Regions from separate parts of the Homo sapiens genome. Here regions 1 and 2 are each linked to region 3. Evidence: fine-mapped expression QTL. A gene starts in region 3. Each other region holds a variant in brackets. All regions are shown on one strand. Distances are between the middles of the regions. Region 1 overlaps TASOR2 (transcription activation suppressor family member 2). Region 2 holds the start of TRV-TAC3-1 (tRNA-Val (anticodon TAC) 3-1). Region 3 holds the start of GDI2 (GDP dissociation inhibitor 2).

Evidence for each region.
Region 1: its variant is fine-mapped to the expression of GDI2 in whole blood (INTERVAL, PIP above 0.99).
Region 2: its variant is fine-mapped to the expression of GDI2 in monocytes after LPS (Kim-Hellmuth 2017, PIP 0.94).

The regions. Positions count from the first base shown.
Region 1 is chr10:5,695,531-5,703,141 of GRCh38, reverse strand. All of the region lies in intron 1 of TASOR2 (transcription activation suppressor family member 2), which reads right to left. Among named protein-coding and RNA genes, the nearest start is that of TASOR2, 14 kb to the right of the region's middle. The variant G/C (reference allele first, on the strand shown) is at 3,028.
Region 2 is chr10:5,847,941-5,859,185 of GRCh38, reverse strand. It overlaps TRV-TAC3-1 (tRNA-Val (anticodon TAC) 3-1), which reads left to right and starts at 5,403; the gene lies at 5,403-5,475. RefSeq lists a silencer at 5,354-5,554, enhancers at 6,035-6,094, 6,351-6,520, 6,615-6,704, 6,835-6,884 and a cis regulatory region at 6,435. The variant G/TG (reference allele first, on the strand shown) is at 5,855.
Region 3 is chr10:5,808,277-5,819,521 of GRCh38, reverse strand. It overlaps GDI2 (GDP dissociation inhibitor 2), which reads left to right and starts at 6,088. Exons shown (of 11, transcript NM_001494.4): 1 at 6,088-6,308. The coding sequence starts at 6,264. LOC124902367 (a long non-coding RNA gene) reads left to right here and starts at 6,325. Exons shown (of 2, transcript XR_007062041.1): 1 at 6,325-7,207; 2 at 7,566-11,245. RefSeq lists enhancers at 600-649, 1,748-1,867, 5,318-5,417, 5,481-6,073, 6,074-6,666 and 1 more and silencers at 5,618-5,797, 5,858-6,127, 6,268-6,807.

The DNA.
Region 1 (7,611 bases), 110 kb after region 3:
CTTTTTCATTTACTGATTAGCTGGTATCTGTCTTCTAGATGTTTCCTCAAGAAAGGCTCATATAAAAAGATGTAAAACCCTGAATGTTTAAAACTACCAGCCAGTACATAGTCTTTATACCCAAAGGACACCTTGGCAGCACAAAAAAATATTTGGCTCACATGTTCTTTGAGTAGCTGACATGTAGTTCCTCTACTATTTTCTGGTATTGAATGTTTCTGTTATTCTGCACCAACCTGATTTTCTTTATATGATCTTTTGCCAGTTGAAATTTTTTACCAGAATATGTCTCAATGTTGCGCCAGTTTTCCCTGGAGCATGTTGTGTCTTTTCAATAGATTTAAGTCCTTTCTTTAAGGAAAAGAAACATCTTAAATTATACTTTAAATTATGTATTCTACGGAATCGGTTTTCTTTTTTGGGGCTCCAGTTTTGCCCGTTTTGGATCTCTTTTGGCTGTCGTATCTATCCTTACTTACCAAAAAAAAAAAAAAAAAAAAAAAAAATGACCATTTTAGTAATGAGATCAAAGCTATAATAAAAACTCTTCCATTAAAGAAAAGCCCAAGACCTTATAGCTTCACTGCTGGATTCTACCAAACATTTAAAGAGGAACTAATATAAATTTCTATTTGAACTCTTCAAAAAATTGAAGAGGAGGAAATATTTCCAAACTCATTCTACAAGGTCAACATTACTCTGATACTAACACCAGAGGAGACAATGAAGAGAAAACTACAGGCCAATATCACAGATAAACATAGATGCAAAAATTCTCAATATACTAGTAAATCAAATTTAAAAACACAGTAAAAAGATATTTGCCATGATCAAGTGGGATTCATCCCAGGGATGCAAGGATGGTCCAACATGTGCAAATCAATAAATGTGATATATTAACAGAACTAAGAACAAAAACCATGATTACTTCAACAGATGCTGAAAACGCATTTAATAAGATTTAACATCTGTTTATGATTTTAAAAAACCCTCATCAAACTGGGTATGGAAGGAACGTATCTCAAGTAATAAAGGCCATATATGACAAACCAATAGCAAACATCATCCTGAACAAGGAACAATTGAAAGCCCTTCCTCTAAGATATGGAACAAGACAAGGATGCCTACTTTCACCACTTTTATTCAATATAGTACTGGAAGTACTGGGCAGAGCAATTAGGCAAGAGAAAGAAATAGAGGGCATCCAAATCAGAAAAGAAGAAGTCAAATAAGCCTGTTCACAGATAACGTGATCTTATACTTAGAAAAACCTGGACTCCACCAAAAAAATTGTTAGAACTGATAAACAAATTCAGTAAAGTTGCAGGATACAAAATCAACATACAAAAATCGGTAGCGTTGGTATACACCAACTGCAAGCAATCTGAAAAAGAAATCAAGAAAGCAATCCCATTTACAATAGCTACAAAGAATATAACATACCTAGGAATCAATTTAGCCAAAGAAGTGAAAGATCTATACAAGAAAAACTATAAAACAATGATGAAAGAAATTGAAGTGGACATTAAAAAATAGAAAGATACTCTATGCTCAGGGACTGGAAGAATTCATATTGTTGAATACTACCCAAAGCCAATTTACAGATTCAATGCAATCAATCCCTATCAAAATTCCAATGACATTCTTCTTCACAGAAATAGAAAACAAATCCTAAAATGTATATGGAACCACAAAAGATCCTGAATAGCCAAACCAATACTAAGCAAAAACAACAAAGCTGGAGGCATCACACTACCTGACTTCAAAATTTACTACAAAGCTACAGCACTGGCATAAAAACAAAACACAGACCAAAGGAACAGAACAGGGAACCCAGGTGTAAATCCATATAGAGCCAACTCATCATCGACAAAGGAGCTAAAACATACAATGGGAAAAGGACAGTCTCTTTGATAAACGGTGGTGGGAAAACTGGATAACTACATGCAGAAGAACAAAACAATCTGACCATATACAAAATTCAAATCAAAATGGATTTAAGACTTACATCTAAGCATCTAAGACCCAAAACTATGAAACTACCAGAAGAAAACACTGGGAAAACACTCCAGGATACTAGTCTGGCCAAACTTTTTTTGTTTAAGGCCTCAAAGGCACAGGCAACCAAAGCAAAAATAGACAAATGGGATTACATCAAGCTAAAAAAAAAGCTTCTGCACAGCAAAGGAAACAATGAAGTAAAGAGACAACCCACAGAATGGGAGAAAATATTTGCAAACTACTCACCCGCCAAAAGATTAACAACCAGAATATATAAGGAGCTCAAACAACTCAACAGCAAGGAAGCAAGCAAGCAAGCAAGCAAACACACACACACACACACACAGACACACCCCCACAAATAATCCAATTAAAAAACAGGCAAAAGATCTGAATAAACATTTTTCAAAAGAAGACATAAAAATGGCCAAGAGGTGTATGAAAAAATCCTCAACATCATGAATGATCAGAGAAAAGCAAATCAAAACTACGAGACATCATCTCGCCCCAGTTAAAATGGCTTTTACTAAAAGGACAAGCAATAATGAATGCCGGCGAAGATATGGAGAAGGGGGAACCCTTATACACTGCTGGTAGAAATTTAAGTTAGTACAGCCACTATGGAAAAGAGTACAGAGCTTTCTCAAAAAAATAAAAACAGAACTACCATATGATCCAGCAATTCCACTACTGGGTATATATCCAAAAGAAAGAAAATCAACATATCAAAAAGACATCTGCACTCCCGTATTTACTGCAACACTATTCACAACAGCCAAAATATAAAATCAACCTCAGTGTCCATCAACAGATGAATAAAGAAAATGTAGTATACACAATGCAATATTATTCAGCCATAAAAAAAAAATAAAATCCTGCTATTTTCAGCAACACTGATGCAACTGTAGGTCTTTATGTTAAGTGAAATAAGCCAAGCACACAGAGACAAATATCACATACTCTCACTCATATGTGGAAGCTACAAAAGTGGATTTCATGAAAATAGAGAGTAGATTTGGTGGTTAT[G/C]AGAGGCTGGAAAGGGTAGGAGGAAGGAAGGAATAAAGAGAAGTTGATTAATGGGTATAAATATATGGTTTGATAGAAGACCTAGTGTTAGATCAGTAGGTTGACTGTAGTTTACAATCTATTATATATTTCAAAATGAATAGAATTTGAGTGGTTCTAGCACAAAGAAAAGAGAAATATTTAAGGTAACAGATGACCCAACTACACTGACTTGATCTCTACAAATTATATGACTGTATTATCACATGTATCCTAAAACTGTGTACATCTATTACGCATCAATAAAAATAAATGTGTACCTGTTTTACTCATTTTTCTCCTGTCTATCTTTTGTTTTCTTTCTTTGCATTATCAAAATTGTGGTAAAATATACTTACCATAAAATTTCATTTCTACTTTTATGATCTTTGCCATGGTGTCTAGTCTCCCTTGTGTACTTCTGAAATGGCTTGATCATTTTTCTCTATTTCTTTTTTTCTGCTGGTTCCCATTTCACACTCTACTGTTGTCTGGCTGTCTCTTCCTTGAGTTCTTGTATTTCTTCTTTCCAGTAGTTCTCCGTAACTTCTATGCTTCATTAATTTTATTTTCTAATACAATGTTGAGATATAATTCATACGGCATACAATTCACCCACATAAAGTGTACAATTCAATTGCTTTTAGTATATCCACAGAATTGTGCTTAGTATATCCACAGAATTGTGCAACCTTCACCACAATCAATTTTAGAGTATTTTCATTATCCCCAAAGAAACCTTCTACCCCTTAGCTATCCTCCTCACCCCTCACTGGTTCCTAGGCCTAGGAAACCATAATTTACTTTCGGTCTCTACAGATTTGCCTATTCCAGACCATTTCCTATAAACAGAGTCATACAGCACGCGGTCCTTCATGATTGGCTTCTTTCACTTAGCCTGTTTTTGAAGTTCATCCATGTTAAAGCATATATCAATATTTCATACCTTTTTATGCCAAATAATATTCCACTTTGTGGATATACTACATTTTGTTTATCCATCAACTGATGCACATTTGGGTTGTTTCTACATTTTGGCTATTATGAATAATTATGCTATGAGCATTCATGTATAAGTTTTTATGTGAACATGTTTTCATTTCTCTTACGTATATACCTTAGAGTAGAATGGCTTGCTCTTCCAGTAAATCTGTGTCTGCTCATCTGAGAAACTGCCAGGCTGATTTCAAAGTGGCTGCACCATTTTATATTCCCACCAGCAGTATACAGAAGGTTCCAATTTTTTCACAGCATTACCAACACTTGTTATTATCTGTCTTTTTGATTACAGCTATCTTAATGGGTATGATGTGGTATATAAATTTATTTTAAAATTTGTATTAAAACCTTAGGTCACATTTTCCATCTACTTCAAAAGGTCAGCAAACTTTTTCATAAAGGGTCAGAAAATAAATACTTTAGGATTATGAACCACACGGTCTCTGTCACAACTACTCATCTCTACCGGTAGAGCATAAAAACAGCCATAGAAAATGCATAAATAGGAATGACCATGTCCCCATATAACTTTATTTACAAAAATAGGCAAGACCACAGGCAGTAGCTTGACCACTTGTGATTTATTTTCTGCTAATATTGTTTTGAAAAATATCGTCTGTAGAAAATTGTGGTTTTTCTCTCTCTTTTTTTATTTTTAATCATATAACTGTTCGGTTAACTAATGTTTATTAACAGACCATCCTGAAGTTCACTGGCTTACAACCACAATCATTTTTTTATCACTCACATCTCTACAGTGTTCATTGAATTCAGCTTAACTCAGCTGGGGTGGCCCTCACTCTCCTATCTCTCATCTTCCCTCAACCAATGAGCTAGCAGAGACATGTTTTTCTCATGGAAATGGCACAGATAGAAAGAGAACAAATAAAAATACCCAAGGCCTCTTAAGGCTTAGGCTTGAAACTGATATGTTATCACTTTTACCTTAGCAAGTCACATAGCCAAACACAAAGTCAAGGAGTAGGGAAATATCTCTGTCACTTTAATGAAAGGAACTGCATAGGGTCATGGAGTGAACATAAGGAAAAGTAAAGCACTAGGGTCAATAATGCAATTGGTAGTGGTGATCATTGCACAACCTTGGGAATAAATTAAAAGCCAGTCAACTGTACACTTTAAAATGGTGAATTTTATGGCATGTGAATTATATCTTCAATAATAAAAATAATATAAAAGAACAAAAAACCAACATAAAACATAAAAAATACCATCTACCAGACAGTCACTGTATGGATGCTGTACATACTATTTTTGTTATACATGTCTGAATGAGATGAATTATCCTGGACTGTTATCAGAAGATTCAGGGTGTAGGGAGGGGTAGGGCACTTGTCATGTTTCTTTAGGGTTCCCTCTGTTCCTAAATCAGAGGACTGCTGTTTTATAATATGGTGCCTTGTTCCTTATCTAATCTCCAAATGTAATCTGGTTCAGGAGGGCCTTTATTGCCAGCTCTGCTTGCCTCTTAGAGACACAACCCTTGCTTTCCAAGGTTATGCACTCATTTCTAGGAGTACTTTATTAGCACTAAGATCTCTGCCTCCCCCATGCCCCACCCAGGCACTTTCTCATTCTGCTTTCTCCTTCCTTGATACCATATGGCTCCTCAGTCTTAGCCAGGTATACGAGACTTCTCTCTTTGGATAGGGCTGATTCTGGATATGAATAAGTTGCTGGAGATACCTGAAATATGCTTCTTCTGCGCAACTTTATCTTTGTCACAGAACTGTTGGAACTTCCCACTGGGGATACCTAACAGCACTTGCATACAATTTAAAGTTAAGGTTTCCTTTTTCCCTGAATTTGTTAAAATGCAGTTTAAGAGCTAGCACCTCGTTCTCTGCCCCCATTCTTCTTTTCAGAAGTAGGAAGAAAATCAATCTGGTCTTGTTCCTTTTGGAACTATACATTCGGTACAATGAAGTTTTGTTTATTTTTTGTTTGTTTCTGTTTTATTGATCAGGGCGCTTAATAGGCCCTTTCAACCTAGAAAGTCACCTTCTTCAGTTCTGGGACACAGATAGTTTCCTTCCACTGTATTAGATGAAGAACCTCCTTGGTTGGCCCTCTAATTTTCTCATCATTTCACTCTTATTTTCTAATTCTTGTGCTCTTCTGGTTTTTTGGGGAGAATTCTTCAGCTTTATTATCTAAACCTTGTATTAAATTTTTAAGAAATTTCTTCTGTCGCAGCAGTTTTTTTTATATAAACTTTTTCATCTTTCACAGATGTAATATCTTCTCTTTAAAGATACTAGTTTTATTTGTTGAAGTTTCTTCTGTTCCCTGAAGTAAATCTATTTATACTCAGCTCCTTTTATTTCCTACTTGGTCTCTTTTTCATTAGAGACTTTCATTCTATGGCAGGCGACCCTTGGCTGTACATTTATACTCAAATGTGAGGCATTTAAAAGCTGACTAGGGCCAGGCACCAGTGGCTCACACCTGTAATCCCAGTACTTTGGGAAGCCAAGGCAGGAAGATCACAAGCCCAGGAGTTGAAGACCAGCCTGGCAACATAGTGAGACCCCATCTCTACAAAAAATAAAAATATCAGCTGGACGTGGGGGCATACGCCTGTATTCCCGGCTACCCAGGAGGCTGAGGTGGGAGGATGGCTTGAGCCCAGGAGTTCAACGCTATAGTGAGTTATGATGGCGCTACTGCACTTCAATCTGGGTGACAGAGTGAGGCCCTGTCTCAAAAAATGAAATAAAAGTTGACTAGAAGCTGTGGTACGTGAACAATGCTTCCTGACCAGCGGCTGTACTCTCCAGGTGATCTGATGGATCCAACTGTTCAATCGGGTGAATTTCCATAGTTCATATCTGTTAAATACTGTGCCATGGGCTGGTAAGTTTCCCCAGCTAAGAATCCGTTAATGTTTTGTTGAGGGGCACGTAAGCCTGATAGTTTGGAAGCCAATCAAAAAAAGACAACCGCTCTAGGTTCAGCATGTTGACCTGACTTTCACTCAATCCTCATTTTCATTTAGGTGCTTCACCCCCACCTTAACCATCTGGAGCCTCCTAGTCTCCTGGGTATAAACCTTCAGTCTTCCGTCAAGGTAGAGGAGAGAGTAGTTGTCTGGGTGTGTGGGAGTGGAGAAGGGGTTCCAGGGTATCAAAATGATAAAGACCATCAACCAACCCTTCTATTCCCACCCCATCCTGTAATTCTTGACTTCAGAAGTCCTGTACTTGATACCCCCAATTCCTAAAACTTTTCCAGATTCTGTGGAAAGAATCTGCTTGCTCCTTGCTGGGTTACCTCTCTTCAGCTTTCAGCATTCTCTAATTCATGAAATCATTTATTACTTGCCCATCTCCTTTCTAGTTTCCCAAATACTGATTTCAGCTATATCTTCCTCTCACCTCCTCTTGATCTTTGTGGATTTATATCCTTATTCTTTTACTATAATCTTAAGAGAGACTTCCAAAGAGTGTATACAATTGAACATGTTAGACTAAAAGTGTCTACTTAACCTGTCTTAATTTCTACCATTAAAAAATGATGCAGCTACCTCCTACAATGGTAGCTACTATT
Region 2 (11,245 bases), 40 kb before region 3:
ATCTGGGTGGCTTTGCTGCTCGCAACTGGGCTCACTCCTGCGTCCCGTCAGCCAGTGAGTTGCTGAGCTGGTATAGGATGGCCTTGGGTGGATCAAGCTGGCTCTGCTCCCCATGGTCTCTCCATTCGGCTAGCCCAGGCTTATTTTTCATGACAGTGGCAGAGATTCAAGAGAGAAAAGAGACTTAAATGTGCTTTCCAGTCTCCGCTCTGTTTGTGTAGATGCTTCCATCCCATTGGCCAAAGCAAGGCATGGTCATGCCCAGAATTAGTGTAGGGGGCAGAACCCACAGACTGGACACAGAGGCCATTGATTGGGGCCATTAATGAAACCAGTTCTTGCTTCATCTTTTGACCATTGTTTTGTCTTGTTGATTTGTAAGAGTCATTTTTATATTGGGTAAATTAGCTCTACACATAATTTCAAATAATGACAAAATTTGGGTTATACATTTACAAGTAAAAAAAAAAACAGACTACAGCACAGCAGAAATAATCTCCTTTATAGCTCCTTTAAAAAAAAAGAGCTCTTGTGAGTAGATACAGGCATACACAGGCACTCACTACAATGCTGGGAGTGGGATGGCACAGATTCCTTGGATATGATAGGGTGTTTCTATTTAGATTACAGTATGTGGTACCTTTAAAGCAGCTCTCAGAGTTCTAGAGCTTCCACCTGTGCCAGCCTACAACATGCATGGTCTTTATTTTTCCCAGTGTTGCTGAAAATCCACGATTAGCTAAAAGGTAAATGAACGCAAAAGACGTAGGAACAAAATCCAGCTTGTGGCTCGTCCTGTCCCTTGAACACAGAGCCTTGGGTCTACCACATCCTTTCCTCTCTTCCAGCTGATACAGACTTAGATAATTCCATTTTGTGATTTAATATTAGATGGAGGTGGGGTGGCTCACACCTGTAATCCCAGCACTTTGGGAGGCTGAGGCTGGAGGATGCCTTGAGCCCAGGAGTTCACAGCTGCAGTGAGCTATGATCACACCACTGCACTCCAGCCTAGGTGACTGAGTGAGACCCTGTCTCTAAATAAAGACCAAAAAATAACAGTGGACTAAACCAAAGTTTATTTTCTTTCCCGCATAAGAGTCTGGGCATAGCCAAGTACAGATGAGCTCAACCAGCCCCAGGTGTCAGCCCCCCGGTTCCTTCTGCTGGTTGTTCTGCTGTCCTGAGTAGGTTGCCCTTTTCCATGTGGTCCAAGATTGCTCCCCAACCTGTGGAGGGGAACAGGAATGAAGGGGAGGGCCAGGCGCAGTGGCTCACACCTGTAATCCCAGCACTCTGGGAGGCTGAGGCAGGTGGATCACTTGAGGCCAGAAGTTCGAGACCAGCCTGGCCAACATGGTGAAACCCTGCCTCTACTAAAAATACAAAAATTAGGCTGGGCACCGTGGCTCCTGCCTGTAATCCCAGCACTCTGGGAGGGTGAGATGGGTGGATCAGCTGAGGTCGGGACTTGGAGAGCAGCCTGACCAACATGGAAAAACCCCATCTCTACTAAAAATACAAAATTAGCCGGGCATGGTGGCACATGCCTGTAGTCCCAGCTACTCGGGAGGCTGAGGCAGGAGAATCTCCTGAACCTGGGAGGCGGAGGTTGCAGTGAGCCGAGATCGTGCCATTGCACTCCAGCCTGGGCAACAAGAGCGAAACTCCATCTCAAAACAAACAAACAAAAATTAGCTGGGCATGGTGGCACACACCTGTACTCCCAGCTACTTGGGAGGTTGAGGCAGGAGAATCGCCTGAACCCGGGAGGCAGAGATTACAGTGAGCTGAGATTGCATCTCTGCACTCCAGCCTGGGAGACAGAGTGAGACCCTGTCTCGAAAAAAATAAAATAAAAAAAATATATAAAAGAAAAAAGAATGAAAGGGAGGCTATGCATGCCCCCTTTTTTTCAGAAGGCATGTAGATCATTTCTGTTCACATCCTCCTGACCATAGATCAGTCATATGACTGCTAGAAGAAAATTGAAATTTAGGGATGGTTCAGGGCTTTGCCATATGCCCTTATCAGAGGTGCCTTCATTGAGACTATTTGGGGACAATTATCTGTGCAAGTCTTTGCTGCTGTCCCCACCCTTCCCCTAACACACACACTCCTTAACCTTAGCTTTTAAAGTCTTAGAGACCAGAGAGCAAATCCACTTATTTATAGATACGCAGTTGTAAGGGACATGAGAACAATCTGTGAAGATGGCATTCGGAGCAGAGAACAAGGCCGCATAGCCGTGTAGGGTGTTAGTCCCCTACAGTGATGCTCCAAGTGACCTCATGCAGGTCACACTCCCTGCCTCTCAGTGTCCTGGTAAACGATGGGCAAAATGGCACCTCCTTCCCAGGTTTACTGTGAGGATTAACCGAGTTGGTGTGTGTCAGACCCCGGTCCAGGTCCAGCCCATGCTGAAGTCCAAGGTGAGTGGGGTGGATGAGCAGAAACGCTTTGGTGCAGGGGGCCTAGGCAGGTGAATATGGTTTTATTCAGCAGCAGTTCTCATCAATGGCTTTTTATTAGCAGCTTACTCACATTAGCTCTCTCACCCTGTCCACCTTTATCTCTGCTATTTGCTTTGGCTCTGTGGCTCCTGTGACCCCCGGCTCTCCCTTGCCTTCAGGGTCAGCAGCTTAACTCTTTCTTTCTCTGGCACAAGCAAGCAGAGCTGTGTCCTGGCTCCCTCCTGTCTGTCTACAAGATGGACAGCTTTGGCTGTCTCCCTTTCTCTGGGCGCCAGCGCACCCACCACATCAAGCCATGTCGAGCCAAGCTGAGCCTCAAAAGCACCTGTACGGCGTCAGCAGGGCAGTTATACCTTTTACAGACAATAGTGGCTCAGAGCCAAGTATGAACTTACACAAACAGGTTATGTAACAAGCGGAGGTGTGCGCCTGCGCACCAAACTCACTGAGCCGTGCAGGCCTGTATATCCGCCTCGGTCTCTACCTTGACCAAATCACATCTATATACCTTACAGCGTGCATGATGCTTGGCCCAGCACGTGCACCCAACACGTGTGAGCCATTGTGAGTAACAGTCGCACCAGGTGAGCCTCTTTGGCTTAATGGGCTGAGTCGTCAAAGGCGAATGAAAATCATCAAGTTAGCAGCACAAGACCAAGAAGAGCTCAACTGAAGAAAGCAGTGAGACAAACACCATTTTTAGCCCCTTTTCCTACTTTTTCTCTTTCTCTTTCCCTCCCTGGGGATGTATGTCCTTAGCCCTTGGACGCCTCCATTGTCTTTATCAAAAAGAAAACTAGGTTTCAGTCTTCATTCATGCTAAGGTGTTAATGAAAAAATTTCAAATTTTATCAATCCTTGAGTTGTCTGCATTTTTTTTTTTTTGAGACAGGATTTCACTGTCAGGCTGGAGTGCAGGGGTGTGATCCCGGCTTACTGCAGCCTCTGACTCCTGAGTTCAAGCGATCTTCCTACCTCAGGCTCCCAAGTAGCTGGGACCACAGGCAGGCACCACCACACCTAGCTAATTATTTTTTTGTATTTTTTTTAGTAGAGACAGGGTTTCACCATGTTGCCCAGGCTGGTCTCAAACTCCTGGGCTCAAGTGATCTGCTCACCTCAGCCTCCCAAAGATATGAGCCACCATGCCCAGCCAATTGTCTGCATTTTAACAAGGATCAAATTATTAAACCGAAAGAATGAAGCTCTCAATATGAAATGCATGCGTCATTAAAAATGTAAAGAAGTATTTTCAAAAATGTATTCTAACTGGGCCTTCCTTCATATCTTTATTTGTATTTTTTGTTTTTTGTTTTTTTTGAGACATAGTCTCCCTCTGTCACCCAGGCTGAGTAGCACCAGGTGAGCCTCTTTGGCTTAATGGGCTGAGTCGTCAAAGGCGAATGAAAATCATCAAGTTACCAGCACAAGACCAAGAAGAGCTCAACTGAAGAAAGCAGTGAGACAAGCACCATTTTTAGCCCCTTTTCCTAGTTTTCTTTTGCTCCTTCCCTCCCTGGGGATGGAAGTGCAGTGGCATGACCTCGGTTCACTGCAACCTCCGCCTCCTGGGTTCAAGCCATTCTCATGCCTCCGCCTCCTGAGAAGCTGGTACACACACACTCAGGTGTGTGCCACCACACCTGGCTAATTTTTGTATTTTTAGTAGAGACGGGGTTTCACCATGTTGGACAGGCTGGTCTCAAACTCCTGGCTTCAAGCAATCCACCCACCTCAGCTTCCAAAGTGCTGGAATTACAGGCGTAAGCCACCGTGCCTGGTTTGTATCTTTATATTTGTTTATTTATTTTTTTTTTTTTTGAGACGGAGTTTCACTCTTGTTGCCCAGGTTGGAGTGCAATGACACAATCTCGGCTCACTGCAACCTCTGCCTCCTGGGTTCAAGCAATTCTCGTGCCTCAGCCTCCTGAGTAGCTGGGATTACAGGTGCCCGCCACCACGCACAGCTGATTTTGTATTTTCAGTAGAGACGGGGTTTCACCATGTTGGTCAGGCTGATCTCAAACTCCCTACCTCAGGTGATCCGCCCGCTTCCGCCTCCCAAAGTGCATTACAGGCATGAGCCATCACGCCTGGCTGGGTCTTTATAATTTTTTTATAATTAAGACATTTTCTGTCCCTTTCATGACTACATCTTGTTAATTCAATTTCTATTCAGCATCTCAAATAGGTCCACTTTCAACAAGCCCACCGACAGCCACTAGGCAACTCCAGCCATTGTCCTCTTGTTCCAGGTACTGTGGCTGCACAGCAAATTACCCCCAAATCTAGCCGTGTAAAGCAGCCCTTTGTTATGCTCATGGATTCTATGTATAGGAATTCAGACAGGGTCCAGCAGCGATGGCTTGTCTCTGCTCCCAGGGACTGGGGATTGCAGCTGGAAGATTTGAAGGCTGAAATCACCCATGTCTGGCAGATGCTGCTGGCTGACGACCTCAGTTCCTCCTCACATGGGCCTCTCCCTCGGTCTCTCCATGTGGGCTGGTGTGAGCTGAGAGAGAGGGAGGGAGCGCCAGGCAAGGCCATATTGCCTGTCATAGCCTAACTTTATTTATGTATTTATTTATTTATTTATTTTTTTGAGACAGGGTCTCGCTCTGTTGCCCGGGCTAGAGTGCAGTGGCACGACCTCAGCTCACTGCAACCTCTGCCTCCCTGGTTCAAGCAATTCTCCTGCCTCAACCTTCCAAGTAGCTGGAACTACAGACACATGCCACCACGCTTGGCTAATTTTTTTTGTATTTTTAGTAGAGACGGAGTTTTGCCATGTTGCCCAGGCTGGTCTCGAACTCCTGACCTCAGGTGATCTACCCACCTTGGCCTCCCAAAGTGCTCGGATTACATGTGTGAGCCACTGTGCCCAGCCTCATGGCCTCATAGTCTAGCTTTGAAACTCAGCTAGCCTGTGGTTCCATAGTGTAGTGGTTATCACATCTGCTTTACACGCAGAAGGTCCTGGGTTCAAGCCCCAGTGGAACCATGGTGTGGTCTGTTGTTTTCCTGCCTGTAATCCTAGCTCCTCGGGAGGCTGAGGCAGGAGAATCACTTGAACCCAGAGGCAGAGGTTGCAGTGAGCTGAGACTGCGTGAAACTCATCTCAAAAAAAAAAAAAAAAGTCATGCAACGTCGCTTTGCCACATCCATTTGTCAAGGCAGTCAAAGTCTCGCCCGGGTTCAAGGTGAGGGAAGTAGACTCCACCTCTTGATGGGAGTGGTAAAGTTCTGGAAGAACAGGTGGGAGTGGAAATGCGGGAGCACCTTTCAGACATGGGCTCTGCCATGTTTCCCTTGGCTGAGTTACTGGGATGGCCTCATCACTGGCCTTGCTACTTCCACTTTTTTTTTTTTTTTTTTTTTTT[G/TG]AGACAGAGTTTTGCTCTTGTTACCCAGGCTGGAGTACAACGGCGTGATCTCAGCTCACCGCAACCTCCGCCTCCTGGGTTCAAGCGATTCTCCTGCCTCAGCCTCCCGAGTAGCTGGGATTCCAGGCATGTGCCACCACACCCGGCTAATTTTGTGTTTTTAGTAGAGATGTGGTTTCTTCATGTTGGTCAGACTGGTCTCCAACTCCCGACCTCAGGTAATCTGCCCTCCTCGGCCTCCCAAAGTGCTGGGAGTACAGGCGTGAGCCACAACACCCGGCCCTACTTTTTTGTTTTCTTTTGTTTTTGTTTTTGTTTTTGAGACAGAGTCTCACTTTGTCACCAGGCTGGAGTGTAGGGGGTGTGATTTCGGCTCACTGCAACCTCCACCTCCTGAGTTTAAGCGACTCTTCTGCCTCAGCCTCCTGAGTAGCTGGGACTACAAGCACCTGCCACCACGCCCAGCTAATTTTTGTTTTTTTTTTTAGTAGAGGTGGGGGTCACAATGTTGGCCAGGCTGGTCTTTAACTCCTGACCTAAAGTGATCCGCCCGCTTCAGCCTCCCAAAGTGCTGGGATTACAGGCGTGAGCCACCGTGCCCAGCCTACTTCTACTTTTGTACTTCCCTTTCTGTGACTCTCACAGAGCAGCCTGGGAAAGCTAGAAACAGATTAGCTTGTGCCCCTCCCTGCCTCTTACTTCTCAGGGTAGAACTGCCAAGGAGGCCAGAGGGACAGCCCAGTCTGTCACCGCAGACGCCTCTCACTCACCCTCTCTTCACGCCCCAGGCCTCCTTTCAGTTCCTCAAACAAAACGGACCAAGCCGATTTCCTTCCACCTCAGTGTCTTCCTGGAAATTTCTTTTCTCAACTTGTCATGAGTTTGATTCCTATTCGCCCTTCTTGCCACAGCCTGAATGTCTCTCCCTGGACAGGAACCATCGCTGATTCCACTCTAAAAATCCTTCCTGAAATCCTGTCACGTCACTTGTGCCAACGTGGATGAAGCTGCAGGACGTGATGTTAGGGTGAGACAAGCCAGGCTCAGAGAGACAAACACTGTAAGATCTCACTCATATGTGGCATCTAAAAACAGCAAACCTGGCAGGGCACAGGGGCTCACGCCCGTAATCTCAGCACTTTGGGAGGCCGAGGCGGGCGGATCATGAGGTCAAGAGTTTGAGACCAGTCTGGCCAATATAGTGAAACTCCATCTCTACTAAAAATACAAAAATTAGCTGGGCACGGTGATGCACGCCTGTAGTCCCAGCTACTCGGAAGGCTAAGGCAGGAGAATCGCTTGAACCCGGGAGGCAGAGGTTGCAGTGAGCTGAGATTGCACCATTGCACTCCAGCCTGGGCGACACAGCAAGACTTTGTCTCAAAAAAAAAAAAAAAAAAAAAAAAAAAGCACGAATCCCATTCATGGGGGCCTCACTCTCATGACCTCATCACCTCCCAAAGGCTCCACCTCTTAATACCGTCACCTTGGGAGTTAGGGTTTCCACCTATGAATTGTTCCACCTGTGAACACAAACATTCTGATCATTGCAGTATTTTTATCACAATAATAATAAAAAATACGTCGGGCGCGGTGGCTCACGCCTGTAATCCCAGCACTTTTGGAGGCCGAGGCAGGCGGATCACGAGGTCAGCAGATCAAGACCATCCTGGCTAACACAGTGAAACCCTGTCTCTACTAAAAATACAAAAAAATTAGCTGGGCATGTTGGCGGGTGGCTGTAGTCCCAGCTACTCGGGAGGCTGAGGCAGGAGAATGATGTGAACCCGGGAGGAGGAGCTTGCAGTGAGCCGAGATGGCACCACTGCACTCCAGCCTGGGCGACAGACCAAGACTCCGTCTCAAAAAAATAAATAAATAAATAAAATAATAATAATAATAATAAAGATGGCAGGAGAAATCCTTTGGAGGTCATGGGTATGTTTCTAACATAGATTTTGGTGATGGTTTCACGGGTGCATACTTATCCCCAAACTCATCAAGCTGTATACACTAAATATGCGCATATTTGTATGTCACTCATACTTCAATAAAGTGGTTGTAAAAAATCAATAAATAGGCCAGGTGTGGTGGCTCACGCCTGTAATCCCAGCACTGTGGGAGGCCAAGGTGGGCGGATCACGAGGTCAGGAGTTTGAGACCATCCTGGCCAACACGGTGAAACCCCGTCTCTGCTAAAAAACAAACGAACAAAAAAATTAGCCGGGCGTGGTGGCGGGCGCCCTTAGTCCCAGCTGCTCCGGAGGCTGAGGCGAGAGAATGGCATGAACCCGGGAGGCGGAGCTTGCAGTGAGCCGAGATTGTGCCACTGCACTCCAGCCTGGGTGACAGAGCAAGACTCCATCTCCAAAAAAAAAAAAAAAGGATACAAAAATTAGCCGGCTGTGGTGGTAGATGCCTGTAATCCCAGCTACTCAGGAGGCTGAGGCAGAATTGCTTGAACCTGGGAGGCAGAGTTTGCCGTGAGCTGCGATCGCGCCACTGCACTCCAGCCTGGGTGACAGAGCAAGACTCTGTCTCGAAAAAGAAAAAAGAAAAGAAAATCAGTAAATAAAAAAGAAAATCAGTAAATAAAGCTATGCGTAGTGGCACATGTTTGTAATTCCAGCTACTCGAGACTCAGATGGGAAGATTGCTCCAGCCCAGGAATTCGACACTGCAGTGAGCTATGATTGCACCATTTCACTCCAGCCTGGGCAGCAGAATGAGACCCTGTCTCTAAAAAAATAAAAATAAAAATAAAGGATTAAAACTAAAAATCAGGCCAGGCACTTTGGGAGGTCGAGGTGGGAAGATCGTTTGAACCCAGGAGTTCAAGACCATTCTGGGCAACATAGCAAGACCCCATGTCTACCATAAGTAAATAAATATCAACAAATAAAAGCAGGCCCTTCCTGACAAATTCTCTCAGCACTCTGTAACATTCCTTCCAGGTATTGACAATATTCGTTCATATGGTTTTTGAATAGCATCCTTTCCTACAAAACTGGAAGGTCCCCAAGAGCAGTGTCCATGCCTGCTGTGTGCCAGGCGTGGAGGAGATCCTCTGTGGATGTTTGCTGAATGAATGAATGATACAGGGGAGGAGCAGCGAACAAAGAGTCTGTCTTCACCTTCAAGAATCAACCTCTGAAAGAAGAGCCAGGGCCGGGTGTGGTGGCTCACACCCAGCACTTTGGGAGGCCGAGGCAGGTGGATCACCTGAGGTCAGGAGTTTGAGACCTGCCTGGCCAACATGGCAAAACCTCATCTCTACTAAAAGTACAAAAAAATTAGCCGAGCGTGGTGACGGGCGCCTGTAATCCCAGCTACTTGGGAGGCTAAGGCAGGAGAATTGCTTGAACCCAGGGGGCGGAGGTTGCAGTGAGCCGATATCACACCATTGCACTCCAGTGACAAGAGCAAAACTCCATCTCAAAAAACAAACAAACAAAAACAAGAAGAGCCAGGGCTGGGCACAATGGCTCACACCTGTAATCCCAGCAATTTGGGAGGCTGAGGCTCAAAGAAGATTATTTGAACCCAGGAGTTTGAGACCAGCCTGGGCAACATAGGGAGACTCTGTCTCTACAAGAAATAAAAAATCAGCCAGGCATGGTGGTGCACACCTGTGGTCCCAGCTTCAGGAGACTGAAGCGGGGGGGATCGCTTGAACCCAGGTCGAGGCTGCAGTGAGCTGTGATTGTACCACTGCATTCCAGCCTGGAAGACAGAACAAGGCTCTATCTCTAATATTAATAACAACAATAATAATACAAGAAGAGCAAGACTGGCATCACCATAAGACAAGTGCAGTGTGATAAGGACTACCAGAGAGCTAGAAAGGCGAGGCTGGAAGGGAAGTCTTCCTGGAGAAAGTGGAATGAGGGCCAAGACTTGAGGAATGGAAGGAAGTTGATTGGTGGAGAAGTTGGGCAGCTCTTTCTGAGCAGAGTCAAGATGTGGATGTGATAGCATGAAACTTGGCTGGCCAAGTAAGATGCCAGACCCCTGGTTATGTTTGAATTTCAGGTAAGCAATGAGTTATTTCTTGTTATCAGTAATGTCCCAAATAATTGCACAAAACCTATTTATTCTAAAAAAGTATTTGTGGCTTATCTGAATTCATGTTGAACTAGGTGGCTTATATTTTTGTTGTTGTTGTTTGTTTTCGTTTTTTTGAGACAGGCTCTCGTTCTGTCACCCAGGCTGGAGTGCAGTGTCACAATCTCAGCTCACTGCATCCTCCACCTCCTGAGTTCAAGCAATTCTCCTGCCTCAGCCTCCTGAGTAGCTGGGATTACAGACGTGCACCACCACGCCTGGCTAATTTTTGTGTTTTTTAGTAGAAATGGGGGTTTCACTGTGTTGGCCAGACTGGTCTCGAACCCCTGGCCTCAAGTGATCTGCCCACTTCAGCCTCCCAAAGTGTGGGGATTACAGGTGTGAGCCACTGCACCTGGCCTGTCTTGTATTTTTATTTGCTAAGTCTGGCAACCCTAGATGAGATGCTAATCCATGTGGCAATTTGGCTCTTTCTGAAAGGGCATAAATGAACTCTATTTCTTAGCTGACCACAGGAAAAAAAATGAGTTAAACTGAATTTGGAGCCCAGATTCTCAATCATTGCTGAAAGAATCAACCTCAAAATCTCAGGAACTTACCAGAGTAAATGTTTATTTCTCGTCTGTGAAATGTCTGACGTGGATGTTCTTGGTTCATGGGTTTTCCCTGAACCAAGATGGTTTTCCGCTGAGCGGTAAACTCAAGGACACAGGCTCCTTCTGCTGTGCAGTGTCACCAGCTTGGACTCCTTGGCTTCCAGTCACACAAACTGAGGAAAGAGACAGCAGGAGCTGTCACACAGCCCTTCTGTGGGCAGGCCTGCCAATGGCCTCAACTCTGGCCATGTTCCATTAGCAACACTAGGTGTGTGACTCCACCCAGATGCTGGGAGGGCCTAGAAATGTCATCTTCCTAGGCCGAGCGTGGTGGCTCACGCCTGTAATCCCAGCACTTTGGGAGGCCGAGGTGGGCAGATCACGAGGTCAGGAGTTCGAGACCAGCCTGATCAACATGGTGAAACTCCGTCTCTACTAAAAATACCAAAATTAGCCGGGCGTGGTGGCATGCACCTGTATTCCCAGCTACTCAGGAGGCTGAGGCAGTAGAATTGCTTGAATCCGGGAGGCGGAGGTTGCAGTGAGCTGAGATCCCGCCATTGCACTCCAGTGTGGGCGACAGAGGGAGACTCTGTCTCAAAAAAAAAAAAAAGAAAGAAGAAAGAAATGTTATTTTCCTGTGTGCCACAGGGCTCTGGGCAGTAAAGGACAGGTTGGTAGAATGGATGGACCACACCAGAGAGCTCTGTGTTTAAATCACAGCGTGGCC
Region 3 (11,245 bases):
CCTGGCCAACATGGTGAAACCCCATCTCTACTAAAAATATAAACATTAGCTGGGTGTGGTGGTGTGTGCCTGTAATCCCAGCTACTCAGGAGGCTGAGGCACGAGAATTGCTTGAACTTGGGAGAAGGAGGTTGCAGTGAGCCGAGATTGTGCCACTGCACTCCAACCTGGACAACAGAGCAAGACTCCATCTCAAAAAAAAAAAAAGATGGCTACCAATTTATTAATACTCTTCCAACGGAGAGACAGGCTCTACAGTTCTTCCATCTGAATTTTGGTGTGCTCTGTGATTGCACTGACAAACAGAACAAGACAGAAGTGACTCTGGGCCAGTTTCTGGGCCCAGGCCTTAAGAGACAAGCAACTTCCACTTCTTGTTTCTTTCAACACAACCACTCTGAGAAGTGCAAGCCAAACAGAGAGGCCACGCATAGCTGCTCTGGTTGACAGCCCCAGCTGAGCTCCCAGCCGATGGCCAGCCTCAGCTGTCAGCCACGTGGTTGTGCCATCTTGGATGTCCAGTCCAGTAAAACCTTCAGATGACTGCAGCCCAGCCACTAACTGAAGCCATCTGAAAGCCCAGGCAATTACCACCTGGGTGACCCATTCGATCCGTAAGAGATAATAATATGTTTTTTTTTTAAGCTGCTATTTTTTTTTTCAACTTAAGCCACTAAATTTTGGGGGTGGTTTGTACACTAGAATAGAAAACCAGAATAGATGTGGAAGGAGAGAGAGACAGCAGAACCAAGGATGATATCTAGAATTCTGGTTTGAGCAGAAATAAAGACTGGAAGTAGGGCTGGGTGCTGTGCTCCCACCTGTAATGCCAGCACTCTGGGAGGCTGAGGTGGGCGGATCACTTGAGGCCAGGAGTTCAAGACCAGCCTGGACAACATGGTGAAATCCTGTCTCTACTAAAAATATAAAAATTAGCTGGCCATGGTAGCTGGCGCCTGTAATCCCAGCTACTCGGGAGGCTGAGGCAGAAGAATCACTTGAACCCGGGAAGCGGAGGTTGCAGTGAGCCAAGATCCTGCCATTGCACTCCATCCTGGGCGACAAGAGAAAAACTCTGTCTCAAAAATAAATAAATAAATAAATAAAATAAAGACTGGGAGCAGACAAACAGTTTTTAGGGGATGGTTCTGGGTGAATGATCATAAGCTAGGAAATATATATTTTTGGAACTATATTAAAATTCCTTTCTAGAGATCCCACTATGTTCCCTCTGCAGCATTAGCTATCCAGGTTTTACACAGGTTTATGTTTTATAGATACCTATCTCTAAGACTCTTTAAAATATTAGTTTTAATATCTCTTCCTAGAAGAAAAGTTGTATTTCTCCAAAGTATCAAGAGGAACTGGGGCCTGGCGTGGTGGCTCACACCAGTAACCACAGCACCTACGGAGGTTGTGGTGGGCAGACTGCTTGAGCCCAGGAATTCAAGACTAGTCTGGGCAACAAGGTGACACTCCATCTCTACCAAAAATACAAAAATTAGCTGAGCATGGTGGGCACATGCCTGTACTCCTAGCTACTCAGGAGGCTGCGGAGGGAGGATCACTTCAGCCCGGGAGGCTGAGGCTGCACAGAGCTATGGTTGTGCCACTGCACTCTGGCCTGGGCAACAGAGTGAGACCCTGTCTTAAAAAAGAAAAAAGGAAACTAGTACCAATATCATCATATTCAGTCCTTGTTGATCTAGGGCTCAACTTCCAAGTCCCCTATTCATTTGTCAAATATTTACTCATCCTCTACTAGTTGCTCAGCCCTTTACTGGCTGTCCAGGCTTCATATCCCTGCCCCTATGGAGTTTACATCCAATTTGAAAAGCAAAGAACAAGTGAAGAAAATAATTACCCCCTCTAATAAGAGCAGTGAGAAACAAGCAGGGTACTGATAGAGAATGATGGTTGAGGGGAAAGCTGAGACCTAAGGAAGTGGAAAAAGTTAGCTGTATGAAGAAGTGCAGGGGGAAGTGAGGGGTGGTAGCCATGGAACCAAGAGTACAAAGGCCCTCGGGTGGTTGAAAGCTTGACCAGATTCTAGGAACCGAAACACATGCATGTTTGGGGTTTAATGATCAAGGAGCCAAGGAGCACTAAAAAATAGAGTTGGAGAGACATACAGAGGCTAGATTAAGGTATTAGGTCATATTTAAGGATTTACAATGTATCCCTTTTTTTTTTTTTTTTTTTTTTGAGATGGAGTCTTGCTCTGTCTCCCGGGCTGGAGTGCAGTGGCGCCATCTTGGCTCACTGCAACCTCTGCCTCCCAGGTTCCAGCAATTCTCCTGCCTCAGCCTCCTGAGTAGCTGGAATTACAGATGTGCACCACCACACCAGGCTAATTTTTGTATTTTTAGTAGAGACGGGGTTTCACCATGTTGGTCAGGCTGGTCTCGAACTCCTGACCTCAGGTGATCTGCCTCAGCCTCCCAAAGCACTGGGATTACAGGCGTTAGCCACCATGCCTGGCTAGGATCTACAATGTATTCTAAGTACAAAAGATATACAGAAGCCTGAACATGATCTGATGCGTGTTTTTAGAAGATAATGGACAGAACAGATAGGAGAAGAGGAAAAAGAGAGGGAAAAAAGCCTGTTGAGAAACTGCCACAGTGATGCAGGAGAGAAAAAGATGGTCTGGGCTGAGGTTCGCTCTCATTTTCTTTCCTTAGATTAAATCTCTCCTTTTCAAAGGGCAGATGGATGCTTAGTAAAAACAGATCAGCAAACAATTATTCCCATGTACCCAAGTATAAATAAGACTCCATGGATTCCTGCTTTGCATAAAGGTTTGAAATATTTTATTTTATTTTTTTTTTGAGACGGAGTCTGGCTCTGTCACTCAGGCTGGAGTGTAGTGGCGCGATCTTGGCTGACTGCAACCTCAGCCTCTCGGGTTCCACTGATTCTCCTGCCTGTCTCCCGAGTAGCTGGGACTACAGGCATGTGCCACCACACCTGGCTGATTTCAAGATTTGAAATATTTTAAAGATTGATGGTGTCCTGGTTTGATCTTGGGTTTTGGCACCAAAAAATAAAATTAAAAATAAAGATTGATGTTTACCACTCATCTTCACCAACCAACCTACTTCCCCTAAACCTAAGGTTTCACTGTAGCAGGAACTACCATCTGTGGCATGAGATCAACTCAACCAATTAGTGGCTTTCAAGCCTCTTCACCTTAAGCAGTATTTGTCATCTACAAGTTCCCTTGCAACTGGAATGGGTGGGGTGGAAGATCCAAGAAAAGCACAGAATTTTCTTTTTTTGAGACAGGGTTTTGCTCTGTTGCCCAGGCTAGAGTGCAGTGGCATCATCATGGCTTGACCTTCCTGGGCTCAAGTGATCCTCCCAGCTCAGCCTCCTGAGTAGCCAGGACTGCAGGCTCATGCCACCATGCCCAGCTGATTTTTTTTTTGAGACTGAGTCTCGCTTTGTCACCCAAGCTGGAGTGCAGTGGCACGATCTTGGCTCACTGCAACCTCTGCCTCCTGGGTTCAAGCAATTCTCTGCCTCAGACTCCTGAGTAGCTGGGATTACAGACGCCTGACACCACGCCCAACTAATTTTTGTAGTTTTCGTAGAGACGGGGTTTCACCATCTTGGGACGGGTTGGTCTTGAACTCCTGACCTCGTGATTCACCCGCCTTGGCCTCCCAAAGTGCTGGGATTACAAGCGTGAGCCACTGCACCCAGCCTGCCCAGTTTTTTTTTTTTTTTTTTTGAGACGGAGTCTCACTCTGTTGCCCAGGCGGGAGTGGAGTGGCGCGATCTCGGCTCACTTCAGCCTCCGTCTCCCGGGTTCAAGCGATTGCTCTGCCTCAGCTTCCCGGGTAGCTGGGACTACAGGCACGTGCCACCATGCCCGGCTAATTTTTGTATTTTTAGTAGAGATGGGGTTTCACCATATTGGCCAGGCTGGTCTCAAACTCCAAACTCCTGACCTTGTGATCCGCCTACCTCAGCCTCCCAAAGTGCTGGGATTACAGGCATCAATCACCGTGCCCGGCCTCCAGCTAATTTTTTTTATAGGGACAGTGTCTCTGTTACCTAGGCTCTACAGCACAGGCTGGTCCCAAGTGATTCTCCCATCTCCCACTCCTGGCCCCAAGTGATCCTCCCATCTCAGCCTCCCAAAGTGTTAGGATTACAGGTGTGAAGCACTGTGCCTGGCTCAGGTACAACATTTTAGATGCACTCAGTCCGTTAAGGCTTAGTCCAGGTTTGATTGTTATTGTCCTTCTGTTGGGCCATAGGGCCTGTACTGTGAACTAAAATGAACTTCAGTGTTAAGTAAGGAAGGGATCCTTATTAGCCTTAAATTCAATTCCCTTATCTCAGTGTCTTCAAGTTTCTCACAACTCTTGAGTATCGATAAAATAGTCTTCACCTAAAACATGGTTAACATAATTCAGTTGACATGCTTAAATTTCTCTTCAAGAGCCAGAGGCTGATGGCAATTGTGAAAAAAGCTCTTTATTGTTATTGCTAATAAAAAAAAAAGGGCCAATAGTCAGGTGTGGTGGCCTGTACCTCTTGTCCCTGCTACTGGGGAGACTGAGGTGGGAGGATGGCTTGAGCCCAGGAGATCAAGGCTGCAGTGAGGCATGATTACACCGCTGCACTCCAGCCTGGACGACAGGGTGAGATTGTCTCAGAAAAATAAAGAAAAAGGGTTATTTCATATTGGTTCAAAAATATAGGTAGTATGACCCCCTGATGACTTGAAGACAGAGCAACAGAAGGACCTTCTTTAGTCATCATTAGCTTAGCCAAAAGAAAAGTCAGTTACACTCACTGTTGCATAATCAGTTGTATGGTCAACTGTGCACTAATTCATTTGGTCACAAATATATACAATCAAATTAAGGTTGAATGTAAATTTAAACTTTACTTTTGCTTTCTTCTCCCCTCCCCCCCAGAAAGATCCATGGTCCAATATAACATATCTTCTTCAAGTATTTATGGGGTAAGAAACATTTTAAAAAGTTGTTACATTCTTTCCTCTATCTTAATGATTTAAATATGAGCAAGTTCGGTCTATCAAGGCAGGCTCTGAATAGCTACTATCGAGAAGTATTTGAGGAGTTCTTGAATGCCAAATCTTCATTGTCTGCTGACTCTGCAGATTTATCACGTGCTGAAAGCACAGGTTTTCCAACTGTCAACGTCTTTACGAAATTCACCTGCTTAGGCTTTCGTGGGGTCGGCCTCTTGGAGCTGAGAACACAGCTTCTGCTTACACCTGTGTCCTCAATGAAGCCAGAGATTCCTAAGAGAATTCTAGAAAAAGAGGAGCGGGGTAGAAGGCAAGCAAGGAACAGTTTCTAAGCTTAGGGCCTAAACCTTTGCATACAAGGATCAGCTACCACGTTTACAGCGGCTTTAAGTTACAGCCCTCGGTAGGTGCAGATCGGCTTCCCAATGAAACCTGGCTTTCACTTTCATCTCTGTTAAGGGTTACCTTTTCAAAAGAAGCCGCTTTTCCTCCTACCAATTTCCTAAAGCGCCCACCGGCAACGCACTAAACAAGGAGGGCACAGAGCGGGAAAAAGGACACGTGTGATTTCCGAACTCTTCCCGGCGGGCTCCGGGCCCCGGCAAGCCCAGCCCCGCGGGAGGAACCAAGGCCGCCACCCCCGAGAGGCAGCCCGGCCCGCGCTCCTCGCCCACGTGGCCGCCGCACGCGCCCGCTCAAAGTCCAAGGGCGGCGATCCGGCTCTGGGACCTTGGACCGAGCGAGCTCCCGCCCCGACGGCGGGAGTCAGAACGGTGGTGGCCAGCAGTCCCCGCCCGCGGCTCCGTGCACCTCCACCCCGGCCCGCGCGCCGCCTCCCGAACCACCGTGGCAGAGGCCGCAAGGGGAACCGGAAGCCAAAATGGCGACGCCCCGCCCTTTTCCTCTCGCGAGAGGCGGGGAAGGAAAAAAAGTTGTGCGAGCGACGGGGACGTAACCAATTAGAGTGCCGGGAGCGCCTGATTGGCGGCCCTCCCGGCGCCTGCAGGCCCCGCCCCGGCTGCGGAGGCTCAGTCACAGCCCTCCCCTCCTCGCTCCCTCCCCTCCTCTCCCCGCCCAGTTCTTCTCTTCCCGTCTGAGGTGGCGGTCGGTCTCGCCTTGTCGCCAGCTCCATTTTCCTCTCTTTCTCTTCCCCTTTCCTTCGCGCCCAAGAGCGCCTCCCAGCCTCGTAGGGTGGTCACGGAGCCCCTGCGCCTTTTCCTTGCTCGGGTCCTGCGTCCGCGCCTGCCCCGCCATGAATGAGGAGTACGACGTGATCGTGCTGGGCACCGGCCTGACGGTGGGCGCCAGGGCTGAGGGGCCGGGGCTGAGCAGCCGGGGCGGGCGCACCCCCGGCTCCTGCACGGCCCGCGGGTCGCAGCTCCTCGGGGGTCTCGTTCTGCCGTCAGCCGTAGTTTTCGGGACGGGAGTCGTGGCTAGGGGCGCGGGCGGGTTCAGGGGCGCCCCGCGTCCCGGGGCGAGCGGGCGGCTCCCAGTGTGAGGGGCAGGCGGGGAAATGGAGATGCGGGCCGTGAGGCTCGGGGCGGGGTGACGGCCGAGCCCGGCCTCTGCGCTTGCCCCCAGCGGAAGCGGAGGGGAGGGGAGAAGGCCGCCCGGGCCAAGGGTCCCGCTCCCCGGTTTGGGCCGGTGACCTCGCCCGGTTGGAAACCAGCACCCGAGGCGGAGGGGACGGTGCAGGCCTCGCGGTTGCATTTCCTATTCCGCCTCGGCCGCTGCCCCGGGTCAGTCTGGCTGCCAAAGCCGAGTACGGGGTTTCCTGACAAGTCTTGGATAATCACTGCTTCGGAACTGCTAGGGCTTGATTAACTTATATTTTTGGCGAAAACGTGGAAATTAGTCTTTTAATCCTTTCTCCCCCCTGCTAATGAGAAGTATTATTGAATCCTTTTAGCCACCCTCCCTTCTCACTTACTGAGCATCTGTAGAATTGGAATTGAGTTTTTTCAAAACTTGTCCGTCAAATGCTTTCGCACCTGACCTTCGCCGCCTTTTCCTTTTGTTTGGTGGGTTCTCTGCCTCCTTTGTCTCTTCTGGACTGTTTTCCCCTAAGAATTGGGTTGGTGATGGATTGCTAAAAGCCAAGTTCTCTGTACTCCGAAGCTTTCTTCAGGGAGTTGGAAGATAATAACATGAAGAATGCATTGTAATATATGAATGCAAGGTGTACCTAATATCATGGTATATTGATTTTCCTGGTTATCTGTTTCTAAGGGAACTTTAGGTAATCTGTAGATAACGCAGGCAGGTTCTGTAGTTTGTACTTTTTCTGTTCTTTTTTTTTTTTTTTTAAATGTTCATCTTGCAAAAGAATTCACTTTGGAGAAAACCATTTTAACTATCAATTTTTGGGGAAATTTGAAATTCTAACTTTGGGCTGCTTGATCATAATTAAGATGAATACTGATGTAAATCTTGTGTATCCTATGTACTCTGACTTCAAATTCCTGAGTCATTTAATGTAGACTTCCACTTCAAATTTTTTGAAATTTATTATAATCTCTCAGGGTCAAACCAATTTTTTTTTTTTTTTTTACAGGTAACATCCCAAAATAACACTTTTAGATGTCTCTAGGCAAGAGAAAACCTTCGAACTTTTATTTGGCTAATTTTTTAGGAAAGGTTTGTGAAGAATTAGAATCGTGTTTTTCTGGTCTGTCATTTTTCTGTTTATAGTTATATGCAATTATTAGAGAATATTCATTCTGAATACTTCGTTATGTTTGACCAATCCAGGAATAATCCTGTGTCTGTCTTTGAAAAGCTGGAAGACTGTTGGATGCCTAAATGAATAGGCCCTACCCACTGCAGGTTTTGTGCTTTTTTTTTTTTTTTTTTAAGTGCCTAATTGGGATTCCAAGCTGAGCTTAGTAGTTTGTGGTGGATTTTGCCTGTTGGAATGGGTAGTGTTGCTGCCAGCGTGTTTTAAGAGCCGGTTAGTTCCACCGTTTTTCTATGGTTGTTGCTGGTCTTTCAGATTTGCTCACAATTGAGGTCAGTTAAGCATGCACGAGTGAGTGCAAATCCACCATCATGCAGGCTTCCACAAGCCTCGTTCACATCACTTTGTATCAAAGATGGTGAAAGTGTTTTTATATAACAAGTTAAGATAATGAGCTTTGTTTAAATTTTCATTCGGATTGTGAACTCTTTGATGAATGGTAGATGCATACTTAACTAGAAATCAGACCTGTTTCTGCTGTCATTTTGTAGCTGTGATAACTTTAATCTCTGTGAGCCTTCCTAAGTTTTCTGAGATGTTCTTTGATAATTATATCAATTCAGGACAATCACATTATTACCATCATTGATAGGAGTAGTGATGACAGGATGATTTTGATAATGAGAAATCATATATCCTTATTTTTAGTGTTACCAGGAATTAGATGATTAAAAATTAGAAGAAGAGAAAACCAAAGTTAGCACTCAGAATTAACTTTTGAATGTCTGGAGTTAATTAATTTTCTTAAAATTTACTTTAGTGCCTGAGACTTAAGAACCTAAAAAAAGGCAAGTACTTTCAGTGTTAGGAACTTGTTACTTTTAAAGAAGTGTAAGGAAGTGCTGGAGTTGCTGTGTTGCTTAGTGCTGCCATTGTTTGTATGAGTTGTTAAGTCTAAGCTCATAATCACAAATATTGATAGTTATCTTAATCAAGAAGATACAAAACGATTTGGTATAAAGGAGTAAAATCTTCATTCTGTGTGTAAAAGAAATGGAATATTCCACACAATTGAATTTTCTGAGGAACTAAAGGTTATCTCTAAAGAGCACAGCTTTTGGATAATGCCTTTCTAAATGCTGTCACAACTTCTTTAACAAACTAAGAAACATAATTTACTTGATAACCAAGTTTTCACATAGTGAAGATTAACTATTGTGTTATGCTGTAACATGGTGAAGCCATGAAGACCCCGCCAGCTTTGTAGGAACTTTTGCCCCCTTTACTCTCAGGCTGCTATGCTTTTTGAGCTCTTCAGTTTACTCTTCATATTTTTTCCCTCTATCTTACTTTACTGTTAGGCTGGCAACATTTACTTTTCTCTGCTTTCAGCATGTGTAGGCAGCCTCTCACCACATAATTTGCACATAGTTCACTATGGACTTGGAAATAAATTCACGAGTCTTGTTAGACATAGTAGATTAAAACAATAAGAGTAACTAGTTCCACAGCTGTTTGTGCTTCCCAGAGGTTTTTTTCTTCCCATTTTTTGTTCTACACAGTAAGAATTTATGAATAGAAATATATACTTTAGTGATGTATACCAGATGATTCTCAGCATCATATGTTTAAAAACTTGCTTTACATCCCAGATACTTTTCCTCATTTCTCTTTATCAGAATTTTGTGATTTCAGATTCAGAGAAGGTTTTATACTTGATTTTAAAATTCTGAACTAAAATTCAGATTGCCTCTTGGATTTGCTTAATCTTTGATTTGCTCTTTGAGAGTTCTTGCTTATAGCTGTGTTAGAGTTCTGTAGACAAAGGACTTTCTATTCACTACAGTAGTGAGCATAGGATCAATATTTGCAAATGCTGTTACACTTGGGAGCTGTGTTGTAGGCAGTTTAAACCAGCGTTAAGCATCCTGGCCAAAAGAAAATATAAGTGAAATTAGACATATTTTAGCATGTAGAGATGACAATAGTGTGACATTGGTTTTTAAAGACCACTGGTAGATGTTCACATGCGTGATACACTGCAATTACCTCTGTCTTCCCTCCCATGGTACCTGATTGGAGACTCTTACTGGAGTAATAGTTTCAGTTTCAGTTATTTAAACCCAGTGACTATTGTGATCAGTTATGGGCAGTAAAAAGGTAAACACAGAACCTGTCTATAAGTAGCTTGTTCTCGTGTTGGAGAGTAACTAATAAGAATTAGTATGAGAAAGCATTAAGTCCCCTAAGAGGTGCACTTATATGAGTTCAGTCAGGGAATCAGGAAAACCTTCGTAAAGAAGGAGATATTTAGCTGGCTTTAAAAAAATATTGGCAAGGTTTGAATGGAGGAATGATTTTTTAGGCAGAGAGCAGTCAGTGTAAGTCAATGCTAAGTCAAGGATGTATGTAGGGAATGGGGAGTGGTTTGTTTTGCTTGAAACAGAAGCTTTGGAGAGAGATTCTAGGCTAAGAAATGTGAAAATTATCTTCAAGGCAGTGAGAGAGGACTTTGAGCAGGAGAGTGATATAATTAGCCACATTTCAAGAGAAGGTATCTTTTGACAGTTTTTTTTTTTGTTTTTTTTTGAGATGGAGTCTCACTCTGTTGCCCAGGCTGGAGTACAGTGATGTGATCTCGGCTCACCGCAACCTCTGCTTCCCAGGTTCAAGCAGTTCTCCTGTCTCAGCCTCCCGGGTAGCTGGGATTACAGGTGCCTGCCACCATGCCCAGCTAATATTTGTATTTTTAGTAGAGATGGGGTTTCACCATATTGATCAGGCTGGTCTCGAACTCCTAACCTCAGGTGATCCACCCGCCTAGGCCTCCCAAAGTGCTGGGATTATAGGCATGAGCCACCGCGCCTGGCTGACAGTTTTTAATGAGATGCATTAGAGGGGCAGAGTCATTTAAAGAAACATTCTTCATAAAACAGCCATTTTTATTATGTTGCTGTAAGATACTTGCCATTGAAATGAACTGATTTAAAATTTTTCTGGTTAATTTCTCATGTTTCTAGGTAAGTAGTTTTGAAAAGGCACTTTAATATTAGTTATTAGATACTTTGTACTCCTGATCACATTTGTGTGTGTGTGTGTGTGTGTGTATTTGTAGTTTTTTTTTTTTTTTTTTTTTAATAACAACAATACTTTTTATTTCTGAGACAGAGCTCTCTGTTACCCAGGCTGGAGTGCGGTGGTTCAATCTCAGCTCACTACAACCTCTGCCTCCCCGGTTCAAGTAATTCTCCTGCCTCAGGCTCCCAAGTGGTTGGAATTACAGGTGCTCACCACCACGCCCGGCTAATTTTTTTGTATGTTTAGTAGCGATGGGGTTTCACCATGTTGGCCAGGCTGGTTTTGAACTCCTGACCTCAGGTGATCTGCCTGCCTCAGCCTCCCAAAGTGCTGGGATTACAGGCGAGAGCCACCGCACCCAGCCCATAACAGAACTTTAAAATGCAGTAGGATTTGATAGGGTGTAGAGGATTTTTTGTTTGTTTGTTTTTGAGACAGGGTCTCGGTCTCTTACCCAGGCTGGAGTGCAGTTGTGTGAT